Homo sapiens: one gene and its partners. The protein of the gene in region 4 purifies or fractionates together with the protein of the main gene of each other region. This does not show direct contact. Each region holds a gene or a part of one and is shown on either strand. Other genes may lie near its edges.

Evidence for each region.
Region 1: the proteins of LUC7L3 (region 4) and PAIP1 fractionate together in Homo sapiens (co-fractionation; one large-scale study listed by BioGRID). This does not show direct contact.
Region 2: the proteins of LUC7L3 (region 4) and NFIA fractionate together in Homo sapiens (co-fractionation; one large-scale study listed by BioGRID). This does not show direct contact.
Region 3: the proteins of LUC7L3 (region 4) and SMU1 fractionate together in Homo sapiens (co-fractionation; one large-scale study listed by BioGRID). This does not show direct contact.

The regions. Positions count from the first base shown.
Region 1 is NC_000005.10:43,536,578-43,540,077, forward strand, and holds part of PAIP1 (polyadenylate-binding protein-interacting protein 1), read right to left. Parts: intron 2,459-3,500; coding exon 2,347-2,458; intron 368-2,346; coding exon 242-367; intron 1-241. UniProt on the Homo sapiens protein: Acts as a coactivator in the regulation of translation initiation of poly(A)-containing mRNAs. Its stimulatory activity on translation is mediated via its action on PABPC1. Competes with PAIP2 for binding to PABPC1.
Region 2 is NC_000001.11:61,459,925-61,463,288, reverse strand, and holds the end of NFIA (nuclear factor 1 A-type), read right to left. Parts: 3' UTR 501-3,364; downstream 1-500.
Region 3 is NC_000009.12:33,066,675-33,070,174, forward strand, and holds part of SMU1 (WD40 repeat-containing protein SMU1), read right to left. Parts: intron 2,261-3,500; coding exon 2,150-2,260; intron 1-2,149. UniProt on the Homo sapiens protein: Involved in pre-mRNA splicing as a component of the spliceosome. Regulates alternative splicing of the HSPG2 pre-mRNA. Required for normal accumulation of IK.
Region 4 is NC_000017.11:50,722,603-50,726,102, reverse strand, and holds part of LUC7L3 (luc7-like protein 3), read right to left. Parts: intron 1-3,500. UniProt on the Homo sapiens protein: Binds cAMP regulatory element DNA sequence. May play a role in RNA splicing.

The DNA.
Region 1 (3,500 bases), on a different chromosome or scaffold from region 4:
AAGAAGACAGAATTTGCAAATGGAAATGGCGTAAAGGACTTCCATTTTTCACTTCTGAACTTGCTTCATATATTAAACAATAAGTATATCTCGCTTTTCCAAAATATTCGAGAAAAAAGTAAAATGTCAATATTTACCTTAAAGTGATAAATCTTGAATTCATCTGTATACTATATAGACTAACCTTCCTCTAAATCATAAGTAAATACGTAAATTAGTTAAATTAAAAAAAAAAACCTACCTTTAACAATTTTACTGCACAAATTAAATTGTCATCCATAGGATTAGAAAACAGGGCATTCAGCAATTCTCGAAGACCAACCTGAAGAATATCTGCTCTTGTAACCTGTCCATTTGTTCCCTTGATCTTTCGGGACCAAAAAAAAGAACAAAAGGAATGATGCCAAAATATAATACAGATACATAAATGAACTAACAAGGTGTTGGCAAAATAAGCATTTTAGCTAAATCACAAAAGTCACAGGAACACACTCTGATATCTTCACAGAATTTGTTAGAATTACTTTATATGTAACTAAGACCTCTAATAAAACTGGTAAGCTATGGGTAAAATTTAATACCAGAGTCAGCATAATTTAAGCCCACTTTGATGTTACTACTTCATAAAGCTTTCTTTAGTTTGTTCAACTACCACTTTTTTTTGAACACACAGCATTTTATTCTGCTTTTAAAATATTTTAAAATATGGTATTTTGCATCAGAGTGGTATATGTATCTTATATCACTGTGTAGAAGAATTTTAGGTGCAGGAACTAAGCCTTATCTTTACATCCCCCATTGACCTAGCATCATTATCTCCATATAGAAAATGCTCAACAGTATTTATTTTAGATTGCTGTCCATATTTTGGCTTAAACAAAAATTAGACTGAAAAAGAACATGGCATAAGATTTTTCAAAAAACTAAGTCTACCTGTGGTAAAAAGGCATAGTAAGTTAGGCTCTGGACTGGACATAGACCTTTTAGATACAATGACTGAGATGCACATTTGATAGATTCACATTGTCTTATGATGTTTCTGATATTATGGCGTTTACGATCTTAAGTTCTCAAATCAGGGTGTAAGAAGGTATAAGCTTATATCTGATATTCACTAATTTAAAAAATCAAGCAGAGGCTGGGCATGGTGGCTCATGCCTGTAATCCCAGCACTCTGGGAGGCTGAGGCGGGTAGCACCTGAGGTCAGGAGTTTGAGACCAGCGTGGCCAACATGGTGAAACCCCATCTCTGCTAAAAATATAAACATTAGCCAGGCATAGTGGTACGTGCCTGTAATCCCAGCTGCTCAGAAGGCTGAAGCAGGAGAATCGCTTGAACCCGGGAGGCGGAGGTTGTAGTGAGCCGAGATCACGTCACTGCACTCCAGCCTGGGTGACAGAGCGAGACTGTCCCCACCCAAAAAAAAAAAAAAAAAAAAAAAATCAAGCAAATCTATTACACAGTAATAATGCCGTGCTGAATCCAGCACTTCTATTGCCTACTAACAAGCATATACTTAAGTATACCACCCAAATTTATAAATACGTTTAGCTGTAGACTTTGTACAAATGCATTTTTATGTGGAAGATTAATATATAAAATAGGACAAAAAAGAACTATTCTTAGGGGTTGGGGTATTGGGGAGATGTTGGTCAAAGGACACAGAATTTCATTTAGGGGGAATAAGTTCAAGAGATCTCTTGTACACCATGATGACTATAGTTAACAATATATTGTATACATGAAAACTGCTAAAAATTTTAAGTGTTCTTAACACAAAAAAGTATGTCAAGTAATGCATATGTTAAATAGCTTGATTTAGCCATTCTACGATGTATGCATATATCAAAGTGTTGTGTACCATAAAGATATAATTTTTGTCAATTAAAAAAATATTTTTAAAAAACTATTTGGGTGAATTAGAGTGAAAAGCCTAGAGAGACTCTAGTCTCTCTTTTCACTCAGAGTTCTGCAGAGTAAACTGCTTTGAGCCACCATCTGAAAGTCAACATACTAAATGTATTAATATATAAGATGTAAGAACTCAAAAAGGTATCACTGTTGATATCTCAAGAACTTAAATTTGCATGTAAACCACAGCTTCCTAAAAGTACGCAGATTTTTACCTCAGTAATTATTTCCTAACATTCTGTCCATGAGTAAATGTTATGGACAGACGGTCCAGTAAACCACAGACACTAGCAGGTGCCGAAACATGTTTTCTTTCCTCTCTCTTTCATTTCACTCTTAATGTTGTAAAAGTACAATGTGAACACAAATTCCTCATTGAGATCAACTTATGTTCTCAGGCCTTGTTAGTACTTAACAAAAGAAAAACTTCTCACCTCCAGGTTAAGATAAAGTTCTCCCAGAAAGAGTACAAATGCATGAAATCGTTTTCGAGTAACTTCATCCCCTTTTGCAGCTTGATCTTTAACTTCATATTCAGTCCGACATCTAATTAAAGACATATCTTTTATAATCTCACATTGCTTTGCTTTTTAAATAGTCAAACAAAATAACCATTTGTCAGTTTGGTTGTCCACAGCAAGAGGCAAGGACAATGTCCCAATGCTCTTTCTACAATAAAGAAACTGTTCCTGACTATTGAAGAGGCTAGAATATACACCATCTTTTCATACTAAGTCTCCCAGTTTGAAAAAACTGATAGTTTTATTTTCAACGATTTTTATCAAATTTAATATGTTTAAGCAACATAGGTGTAATCTGATTCACAGCATACTGGCAGCCCAAAGAGGGGAGAGAGAGCCTCACCTTGTCTTATAGGTTTTTTACTAAGAAAGCACTGATTTTACCCAAATTGTCTCTGTAATTTTTTTTTTAATACTACAACTTTGAAAAGGATCTTTAAATACACACACACACACACACACACACACACACACACAACCTCCAACTGAAAATAAAATGAATTGTTTTTAAGTCCATTATTCTTGTAATTTCCATTATACGTATCAGAGAAGTACTAATGTGAGGAAAAAATTCCCCCATTAAAACCACAATATAGAAAGCACCGGACTTGTTTTCTATTTCCAATGAGACTGACAGCTTCAAATAACTGATTTTTCCTTGCTCTCTTTGCCCCTGACTTGACCCATTTGCTTCACACAGAGGAGAAAAAGAAGAAATCCTCTTCTTGGAGCTTATTGTCAGTCATAGTTCCTACAAGGTAACTAAACTAGGCACAATAATCCTGTCACTGCCTTCATAAGTGAACTACAGTGTCAGATATTGTTACTAACATAGATTTTTTAAATGGACTGTAAAAGTTTATCATTTTGTTATTAAGTATTTGTAATCTTTATTGATAAGGTGAGAAAACTCTGGGAAAGTAACTTGCTTCACAAAACTGGTTTTGACAGTTTTCCTTTTCAAGACAAAGGGAAAAGCTATGGGTACTGAATGGTTTCCACGCAGCCAGTTTAGGTTGACTTTGTAAACAATTTTTAACAAAGAAAAAATAAATTACCTCTTGTTC
Region 2 (3,364 bases), on a different chromosome or scaffold from region 4:
AGAGGTCTGGCCACTGGCCATGTGCTGTCCCCACCTTTGTGGTGACCACCTCCCTCAGAAAAGACCCAAATATCAGCTGTGTGGTGTCCCTCCTTGAGTGCCTAGGTTCTGGTAAGCCCACCTTTCCCTTCGGTTTCCCCAGCTCCAGGGGTAGTGGCTGTATCCTGCAGTTACTAATACCTAGGCAACTTTACAGCCCCTGTTGGAAAACCCATTGAATCTTATTCCTGATTCCCGATTGGGCCCCAACTGATACAATCTATACAGCACTCAGAACAATATCAGGCACACAGTAAACACTATGTGAGTGTCAAATCCTGTATTTGTCCAAGTAGGTGAAAAAAGTAACACTGCCCATCAGAACACAGCCAAGGATGCTATGTGCCTGACAAACCCCATGGTGCATAAAGACCATCTTCTGTGGGAGCCTCCAGTCCACACCCGTGACTGTCACTCAATCACCCAGGCATGCTGTAAAGCAAATGATGACACAGCTTCCATAGCATTAGCAATTTTTTATTTTTCCTTTTTTGTTGCATAGGAAATGCAGTACTTGCTTCCAGTAATTGTATTGTAATGTGAGAAGGTGGTAGCACTAATGGTTGAATACAAGAGTTAAACTAATCCACACCAGCTCAAAAAACCTGTGGAGATTTAGTTGAATAAGAATGGACGCCCACAGTGATTCTCAACCAATTACAAATTTTCACAGAACACAGTAAAACTAAAAGGGTAACTATGAGAGTCAATACAAGTATACTAGAGGCACAGGGGGCCCGGCTCATAAAAACAGATTTCAGACCAAGTTATTAACACGGGGGGTGTTTCGTTTCATAACAGATCTCTTACCATCACTGGAAGTGTTCCATCCCCTCCCCCTACAATTTGAAATGGAAAACAGAGGTATTCCGAGTGGACAGATTTCCATGTGTGGTGGGAAAAGTCCCCAGTGAATTTTGCTCTGGTGAGAGGGCAGGGCTAAGGGTGGGGCGGGGGATCAGGGATTTGCCTTTGAGAGTCTTCCTAAAGGACCTCCTAGAACCTGATAAAGCTCCTAGTCTAGGTCTAGTTAGTATCTCAGTGGCGAGGCTACCAAATGCCTTCGCAGTGCAGAGACGATGGTCTGAGACCAGGGAGAAGGCACCGAGCCGTTAGTTCTCTCAAGCCTCTGTCCCAGCGGAGCTAGCGGCCTTATGACCTTCGGTTGCAATGTCAAAAGAAAAAAAAACAAACAAAAAAAAAAGCCAAAAAAAAAAAAAAAAAACCCAAAAAGGCTAACTTACAGACTATTATCAAAAAATAAAAATTTAAAAAATAAGAACAACACAAATAAGTCAAAGGAAAAATAAAAGCTTTTTTCATTTTGAGAAGTTGAGTATAAAAACAGCAGGAAAAATGGCCCAATACATTGGACACTATTTGTCCTTGAAACCACTGCAGAGATACAAAAGTTCACATTGTATGACCTGGTGGGTGTCTTCCACCATGAAGGTGCTCTGGTTAGATTAGAGGTAGCACTTCCACTGTATGCTCTTGTGGTTCAGACACATTTTGGGAAAGTTTATTTTTCTGAATCAAATAGGCGAATGCATCTACATGTAAAACTCAGGATACCAGGCACACAGATGAGGTCCCACCCCCACACACTGTCTCCCTGTTCTCACGACCAGCTGTGGGTGGTCCCCCTTATCTTTCTAAGCATTTCCGCTATCTGCTCCCCACATACCATCCCCCTAATCTGGGAAAGGTAACTCTTTGGGGAATAAAAGGCAGATGGGTGCTGGTTTAGGGAAAAAAATGAGATGAAATTTATTTAATTTGGGAAGCAAGTAATTTCAAATTTAGACCAAAAAAAGTATATTAAAAAAATCCCGTGTTAATAGCAAACTTCTTTTTCTTATGAATCGGGCCCAAAGTTTGTACAGAGTTTTATTTTTGAAGAAAATATTGCAACTGTGCATGAAACTAAATAGCCATGTGATTTCTTACATTTTTTTTCTTATTTTTCCTTTTAATATGAGGAGGTCTGGTGTGAAGACAGATCAAGCATGGGTACCTGGCTTGAACATTGTCCATTAAGAAAATGTATCAGTCTCCGCATAGCATCAGTCAAGGGTCAAGGAAAATGCCCCTGACTTGCAAATGTTCTCAGAGTGTCTTCGCAGCACAGTTCTTGAAATTCAAATAGTCGTTTTGAGACAAAAATCTCGCCAGGTACTGATTTCTGAAATCAAACACCCATGCTTGTCCCCTAGGAAAAAGAAAACAAAAAACAAAAACAAAAACAAAACACGAGTAATACTGAATTTAAGTAAATGTATACCTCCAAAATACTGAAAACAGCCGAAATCAAGAAAAGACAGAATTTGCGTTCTCAGTGAAATACCTTTAAACCTAGCTGACAAGAACCAAGTCGGAAAAAAAGACTAACATAACTTTGAGTAATATTCATACAGTTCACTAAGCATTATGGAATCGCATGCATTAATATTGTACGGTTATTTTACATCACCTATACCAGAAGGTCCTGACTGACAGACAGCGAAGGCTACCGGTGTAGAAAAATCTTACTTCAGAAGAGCAATATAATACAGATTTCACAGGCACTACATTTTAATATATCAGGTATTATGCTGGTTTTCTTATAATTCTTTCTGTCCTAAAGCTGGCATTATAACAATGACCAAAAAGGCAAGGATTGAAGTAAACGGAAAGTAGATACCAAAGTTGATATAGTTTTTTTCTTCAGATAGATTAGTGCATAGTTCTCATGCAGATAAACACTGCTATGCATTTACACTGTTGGAAAGCAGAGTGAATTGAGCCCAAGTTGTCACATTTGTGTAAATCATTTTGTCAGCCTATAATAGCACCATGTAATGGATTTGCATTAAACATTAAATTGATTTCAAAATTGGTGACACAGTATTCACTACAGTTAAGTGCTATGGAATAGCTTCAATGTTACCTGCTATATATCAAAGCAATTTTCATCCCACTGCTTTTTTATTGGAAAAAATAAAAGGAAAACATACACGACGCTAATTAGACGAATGCACAGCCTTGGACGTGGAGAAGGCAGAGCGGGTTTACTGTCAAACAGTAAATACATGCATTGACTTCAAGACAGAATTGGCCTTGGAAGCCTTTTTGAATGAAAGCTGAGCCGGTGGGCAGTGCAGCTTTCTGAGACTGTCTTTGGACAGATCTCGAAGGGTGGGTTTTGAGGTGCCACTGAAGCTCTCCTTACATTACTATGGTGGTTGTGTTTTAGATTTGTTCTATGGAGGCCTGCTACCAGAAATAAAAAAGAAAAGAAAGAATGAAGACAAGAAAGAAAACAGAAGCAAACAAAAAGAGAGAG
Region 3 (3,500 bases), on a different chromosome or scaffold from region 4:
GGGCACCTGTGGTCCCAGCTACTCGGGAGGCTGAGGCAGGAGAATTGCTCGAACCCAGAAGGCGGAGGTTGCAGTGAGCCAAGATCGTGCCACTGCACTCCAGCCTGGCGACAGAGTGAGACTCTGTCTCAAAAAAAAAAAGAAAACTGAGGAATCTATAAATAAGACCTACCAAAAAAATAAGAGACCCAAAATTCCCAGTATGAAGATGAGAGAAGTCCTGGTACAGTAACTGTGCAGCAATGCAAGAGAACTAGTCCTGATGGGAACAAAAAGAGAAGGGCCTCAGGAAAGATATCAGCAAGCGGAAAAAAAAGGACTTTTGACGGTTCTACTAGAAATACTCAGGCTGGACTAGCAGAAGTGCATAGAAAACTAGGCAAAAGAAAAAATAAGCAATAATTATTGCAAATCATAAAAATTTATGTAAGAAATTACATGTAATTATTTTTTAGCTGTGAACAATAGCTATATAAAAATAACTATGTAAACATTGAATATAGATTGAACCAAAAGTTGTGATACAGCTCTACTGAAAATCCAGAAGAAGAGTAAGTGTGTATTGAGGAGAGTGGGTATAAGACAAATCATTTTTCGCTGAAGAAAGTTAGTTGCTAATGACCAAAAAAAAAAAAAAAAAAAAAAAAAAATCAGGTAATAACAGTATAAACATGGTATTCAGCTATGGAGCTAAGTCAGGAAAGTTAAGAATCAGAGGTGGAGAAGGGAAGCACATGGGACTGTTTTTCACTGTAAGCCCTGAAGTACTACTTAAACGATGCACTGCTATTAGTTTGATTAAGAAATCAAAAAGCAGCTTACTTTTTTTTTTTTTTTTTTTGAGATGAAGTCTCGCTCTTGTCTCCCAGGCTGGAGTGCAATGGCTCAATCTCGGCTCACTGCAACCTCTGCCTCCTGGGTTCATGTGATTCTCCTGCCTCAGCCTCCCGAGTAGCTGAGATTACAGGTTCCTGCCACCACGCCCAGCTAATTTTTGTATTTTTAGTAGAGACGGGGTTTCACCATGTTGGCCAGGCTCATCTCGAGCCCCTGATCTCAGGTGATCCACCCACCTTGGCCTCCCAAAGTGCTGGGATTACAGGCATGGGCCACCACGCCAGGCCAAAAAGCAGCTTACTTTTGAATCTCAGAGTCACTGCAGGCCTGCAACAAATAGCTTTTTGGTCCTTTTCTAAATGCAGATTTAGTGCAAAAAGGTTATTAACATCCCTATTAATCACTTGTGCCCTTTGTTATTTATAATATATCTATTACTCTAAGTAGCTTTATAATAATGACCATGCTGGCAACACTATTAGTAATTTTTTAAAAAATCATCACCAGCAGCTACCATTTACTATTTACAAGGTGCCAGGAAATGTATAAAGTGTTTATGAACATTATTTCTCTTAATCCTTACTCTCAATACTGTGACGAGTAAATGGGACCAGAAAAGTTAAGTAATTTGCCAAGACTATATAGCTGGTAAATGAGAAAGCCTGGATTCTAACTAGGATGGGCATTTGTTCCAATCTTTCCAGGACAGTTACTATTTGCACTTGGTGTTCTGGCATAGGGATCAACTGTACTCTCAACGATATTCCAGACAGGATGATAAATTCTATGGTAACCCTAATTCTAACTGACTCCAGAGCTTGTTCTTAACCACTAATCTATATTGCCTCTCCCAGGAAAGAGGGAGAGTGGAACAGCACAGTTACTGGAATAAGCAACTCTGTAGGTAGTCCCCAATTCTTAGGGTGTACAATTTCTTCAGCTAAGACATAGTTTATACATAGGAAATTAGGAAATTGTACCAGGAGTTCACTTTTTAAATTTATTTTTATTTTTGGAGACAGGGTCTCACTCTGTTGCCCAAGCTGGAGTATAATGGCATGATCATAGCTGTCATCTCAATCTTCTGGGCTCCAGTGATTGTCCCACCTCAGCCTCCCAAGTAACTGAGACCACAGGCACACCCCACCATAACCCGCTAATTTTTTTACTTTTTGTAGAGACAGAGTCTCACAATGTTGCTTAGGCTGGTCTCCAACTACTAGGCTCAAGTGATTCTCCTGCCTCAGCCTCCCAAAGTGCAAGGATGACAGGTGTGAGCCACCACACCTGGCCTCTACAGGAATTGAATTACCTGTCCCAGCAATGCCATGAGACGAGATGGAGGCACCACACTGACTTCGCCAGCTAAGGCCTGGGCAATTGCTGCTCTTCTCTTTTCTTTGCTACTTCCATCTGGGTATGCCTGAAAAAGGAGAGGGTGTAGCATCATTTCCAAGAAGCAACAACAAGATATGAGTGTGCTTATTTAAAACAAACAAGCAGAAGCATACACAGAGGAAAATGTGAAAAGAAATTACCCAGTTAAAGAAGGGATTAGTTGAACTAATTTAGTTTTTGAAAATGACTTCCCAATTCTGCCCGCTTGCATTTCAAAAGTATGAGTTGGGAGAAAACTGAGGTCAGCCAATCCACACTATTATTATTTTTTCACTGAGTTCCTGGCCAAAGGACACACTGCTATTTTTCTGAAAAGAGTCCAAGTAAACCACATTAAACCCAGAGTTGTTCTTCCAGTTTTTGAAAAATTTGCAGAACCAAGAATTCTTTTATACTCTTTAGTAATTTCTTAAATGGCTCCCAGCACAGAAGTGCTTCACCACCTCTAAGTTAAATCCTGTCCTGGTAATCTAAAATCCTTTCCTTTATCCTCATAGATTTTGTAGGTTTACTCTAACATTCTATTATCCAGTGCCTATTAAGTTCTTCTTCCTCCTGAGAAAATACTTGCAAACTACCCATCTGACAAGGGATTAATAACCAGAATATGGCTGGGCAGGGTGGCTCACGCCTGTAATCCCAACATTTTCGGGGGCTGAGGCTGGCAGATCACCCGAGGTCAGGAGTTTGTGACCAGCCTGGCCAACATGGTGAAACTCTGTCGCTACTAAAAATAGAAAAACTAGCCAGGCCATAGTGGTGGGTGCCTGTAATCTCAGCTACTCGGGAGGCTGAGGCAGGAGAATTCCTGGAACCTGGGAGGTGGAGGTTGCAGTGAGCTAAGATCGTGCCATTGCACTCCAGCCGGGGAGACAACAGCAAGACTCTGTCTCAGAAAAATAAATAAACAAATAAATAAATAACCAGAATACAGGGCCAAGTGTGGTGGCTCATGCCTGTCATCCTAGCACTTTGGGAGGCCGAGGCGGGTGGACTGCTTGAGGCCAGGACTTCGAGACCAACCTGGCCAACATGGCGAAACCCCATCTCTACTGAAAACTCAAAAATTAGCTGAGTGTGGTGGCACACACCAGTAATCCCAGCTACTTGGTGGCTGAGGCACGAGAATTACTTGGACCCAGGAAGCGGAGGCTGCAGTGAGCCGAGATCACGCCACTGCACTCCAGCCTGGGTAACAGAGCTCTGTCTCAAAAACAACAACAACAACAACAACAAAACCCAGAATATATAAGGAGCTCAAACAA
Region 4 (3,500 bases):
TTTTACTGTGATATGCAATTTACTTTAGACACCAACTGCTCATGCAGAGATTATCAAGAGTCACAGGTCATAGGGCATTTTAAGTGGAGCCTGGCAACACTTGAGCTCACTGTAATAGCAACAGGTGGCTACAAAATTATTACAGTATTACAGTATGTACTATAGTTAATTTTATGCAGTTATTACTCAAGCTTTACTTTCTCTGGACTGCTAGTGGCACCATGTACTGTGTGCATAAGTTTTTATAAAGTTTAACTTTTTATGATTCGTATGTATTTTGTGGTAGGAAAATGATAAACTAGTATATACATCTATTTTATGTATTTGTGATGTACTTATCTTTTCTTAAATTTTAAAAATATTTCTAAGCTATGTGATTCGTCTTCAAGTTTTTTCAAATTGTTGCAAATCTCCAAAAAATGTTCCAATATATTTATTGAAAAAACTCCACGTATAAATGGACACACTCAACTCAAACCCGTGTTGTTCAAGGGTCAATTTTACTTTTCCCAATGGTAGGATTTATCATATTCTGTTATGGAAATGCGTTTACATTCAATTGGAATAATCCCCATTGGAAAAAAAAAGTGCATTTACTGTCACCAATACATGATGGCTCTTTAGGACCAAGTGCTGTATCTGTACTATCCTGCTGTTATCTACCTAAGAGCAATACTTTTAATTTTTTTTTTGAAATGGAGTCTTGCTCCTGTCACGCAGGCTGGAATGCAGTGGCGTGATCTCGGCTCACTGCAACCTCCACCTCCCGGGTTCAAGCGATTCTCCTTCCTCAGCCTCCCGAGTAGCTGGGATTACAGGCGTGCGCCACCACACCTGGCTAATTTTTGTATTTTTAGTAGAGACAGGGTTTCGCCATGTTGGCCAGGCTGGTCTCAAACTCCTGAGCTCAGGTGATCCACCCGCCTCAGCCTCGCAAAGTGCTAGGATTACAGGCGTGAGCCACCGCTCCCAGCCGAGCAATACATTTTTGTTGGATAAATGAATACAACAATTTTCCTAACTTACTATAAGAAATGAAGAGAAAGGCTGGGCATGGTGGCTCACCCCTGTAATCCCAGCACTTTGGGAGGCCGAGGGAGGATCACTTGTTGTCAAAAGTTCAAGACCAGCCCGGCAAACATGGTGAAACCCCATCTCTACAACAACACAAAAATTAGTCAGGCATGGTGGCATGCACCTGTAATTCCACCTACTCTGGAGGCTGAGGCAGGAGAATCGCTTGAACCCGGGAGGTGGAGGTTGCAGTGAGCTGAGATCACACCACTGCACTCCAACCTGGGCAACAGAGCAAGACTCCATCTCGGGGGTAAAAAAAAAAAAAAAAAGAGAAAATATTTCATAAAACGAAGAACTGTATTAGCAAAAAAGTCAAATTTACAAACTTAAGCTACCTTCTCCTTTTGTGAGGAAATCAAGGCTAATAACATATATAATGACACACACACACACACACACACACACACACACACAATTTTCCTAAAGCAACCAAAGATTTACGAAATACCTTACTATAATTTTCAGTGATTATGGTATTGTGGTTATTTTATTCTATTTTTTTTTTGAGACAGAGTGTCACTCTGTTGCCCAGGCTGGACTGTGGTGGCACCATCTCGGCTCACTGCAACCTCTGCCTCCTGGGTTGAAAGGATCCTCCTGCCTCAACCTCCAGAGTAGCTGGGATTACAGGAATGCACCACTACGCCCAGCTAATTTTTTTATTTTTTATTAGAGACAGGGTTTCACCATGTTGGCCAGGCTGGTCTCGAACTCCTGGCCTCAAGTGATCTGCCTGCCTTGGCCTCCCAATGTTGAGATTACAGGTGACCCACCATGCCCGGTCGGCTATGTTTTTTTTTTAAAGTCCTTGTATTTTACAGATATACAATGACCGCTTTAAGGTTGACAATAACAGAATTGCTTCAAAATAATGGAAGGGATACAGAGGAAATAATATTGACTATGTGCTAATATTGCTAAATTGGGCATGGGTACATGGGGAGTTCAATTTATTATACTATTCACTCTAATTCTGTATGTTTTGGGAAGAAAAGCAAATAGCAATTACATACACATATAACACATGGACTGCTGGCAATTCTGAGAAGCCAACACTTACTATTTTACTATGGAGTAAGGTAGGAAATGCCAGCCGGGCGCAGTGGCTCACGCCTGTAACCTCAGCACTTTGGGAGACTGAGGCGGACCGATCACTTGAGGTCAGGAGTTCAAGACCAGCCTGGCCAATATGGCAAAACCCTGTCGACTAAAAATACAAAAATTAGCCGGGCGTGGTGGCCCACACCTGCAATCCCAATTACTCGGGACGCTGAGGCCAGGAGGTGGAGGTTGCAGTGAGCCAAGATCATGCCACTACACTCCAGCCTGGGTGACAGAGCTAGACTCTGTCTCAAAAAAAAAAAGGGGGGGGGGCAGGGAGCAGGGTAGAAAATGCTTTTCTATCTTACTCCATAGTAACATAGTAAGTTACTATGAACATTTTGGTGACTCTGAATGAAAACTAGTAAAATACATATTAATAGATGCCATCATGCATTATAATTACTAGTTTTTTGCTTTCAATTTTTGCTCCCAAATTCTGAACATTTTTAAAGCAAAAAGAAAAAGTATACAAGTAAAAAATGTGGACAGAAGCTTTAGCTATTTTTCCTTTTCTAAACAACTTTTCAGTGTCAATGACAGTATCTGCTAACATTCCAAAGATTTTAGAAAAGAACATAGTTCAATTTCCTTCATAAATTATTAAACCTTCATGTTAAACCTTCATGGAAGGAAGGGTAGGCTTGAGTTTGATAAATGGAAGAAAACTCATTTCAGATATTAGAATCAGTGTTAATGATTAAGTAATTTCATTTTCAGGTTGAGATCTAGAATATAAAAACCTCAATTTGAACTACAAAATTTCTGTCTTGCTACATAAAAAATAACAAAACTCCCGATCAGACTTTACAATTTACTACAATCTTCTAATAATATGGCTACTAGTGCCTTCTCTGGCTAACACTGAAATCAAACCCTCACTGAAAGGTACTCACCCTAGGCAGTTAGTTACAATCACATGCTTTCCTCATCACTGTGGTTGTTTAGGATTAACCAAGCAATTGCTTAGTGCAAAAAACCAAAACAATAATCTCAAACAATTGCAAAATACAAATAAACACGGTGGGAGGGTGTACCAATGAATCCATGAAACAGTATTAAAGCCGACTTCACTTTAGCTGCAGTTTCTCAGATCCAGAGGTAGCAATCTACAAAGTTGGAAATGCCTGTAAAAGCACTAGCCCCAGTAAAATACCTTGGTGAAGGTTACATACACACCATTACAAATAAATGGTCGATGATTTTGCATCACAGATGCATCCTTCACTTGAAACTGCGCTTCGCAAGTGCTGCTTGCTCACTTATTACCCATCATGAAAAGGAGAAAAAAGTACAGTATTAGAATCTACTACCAAATTAAT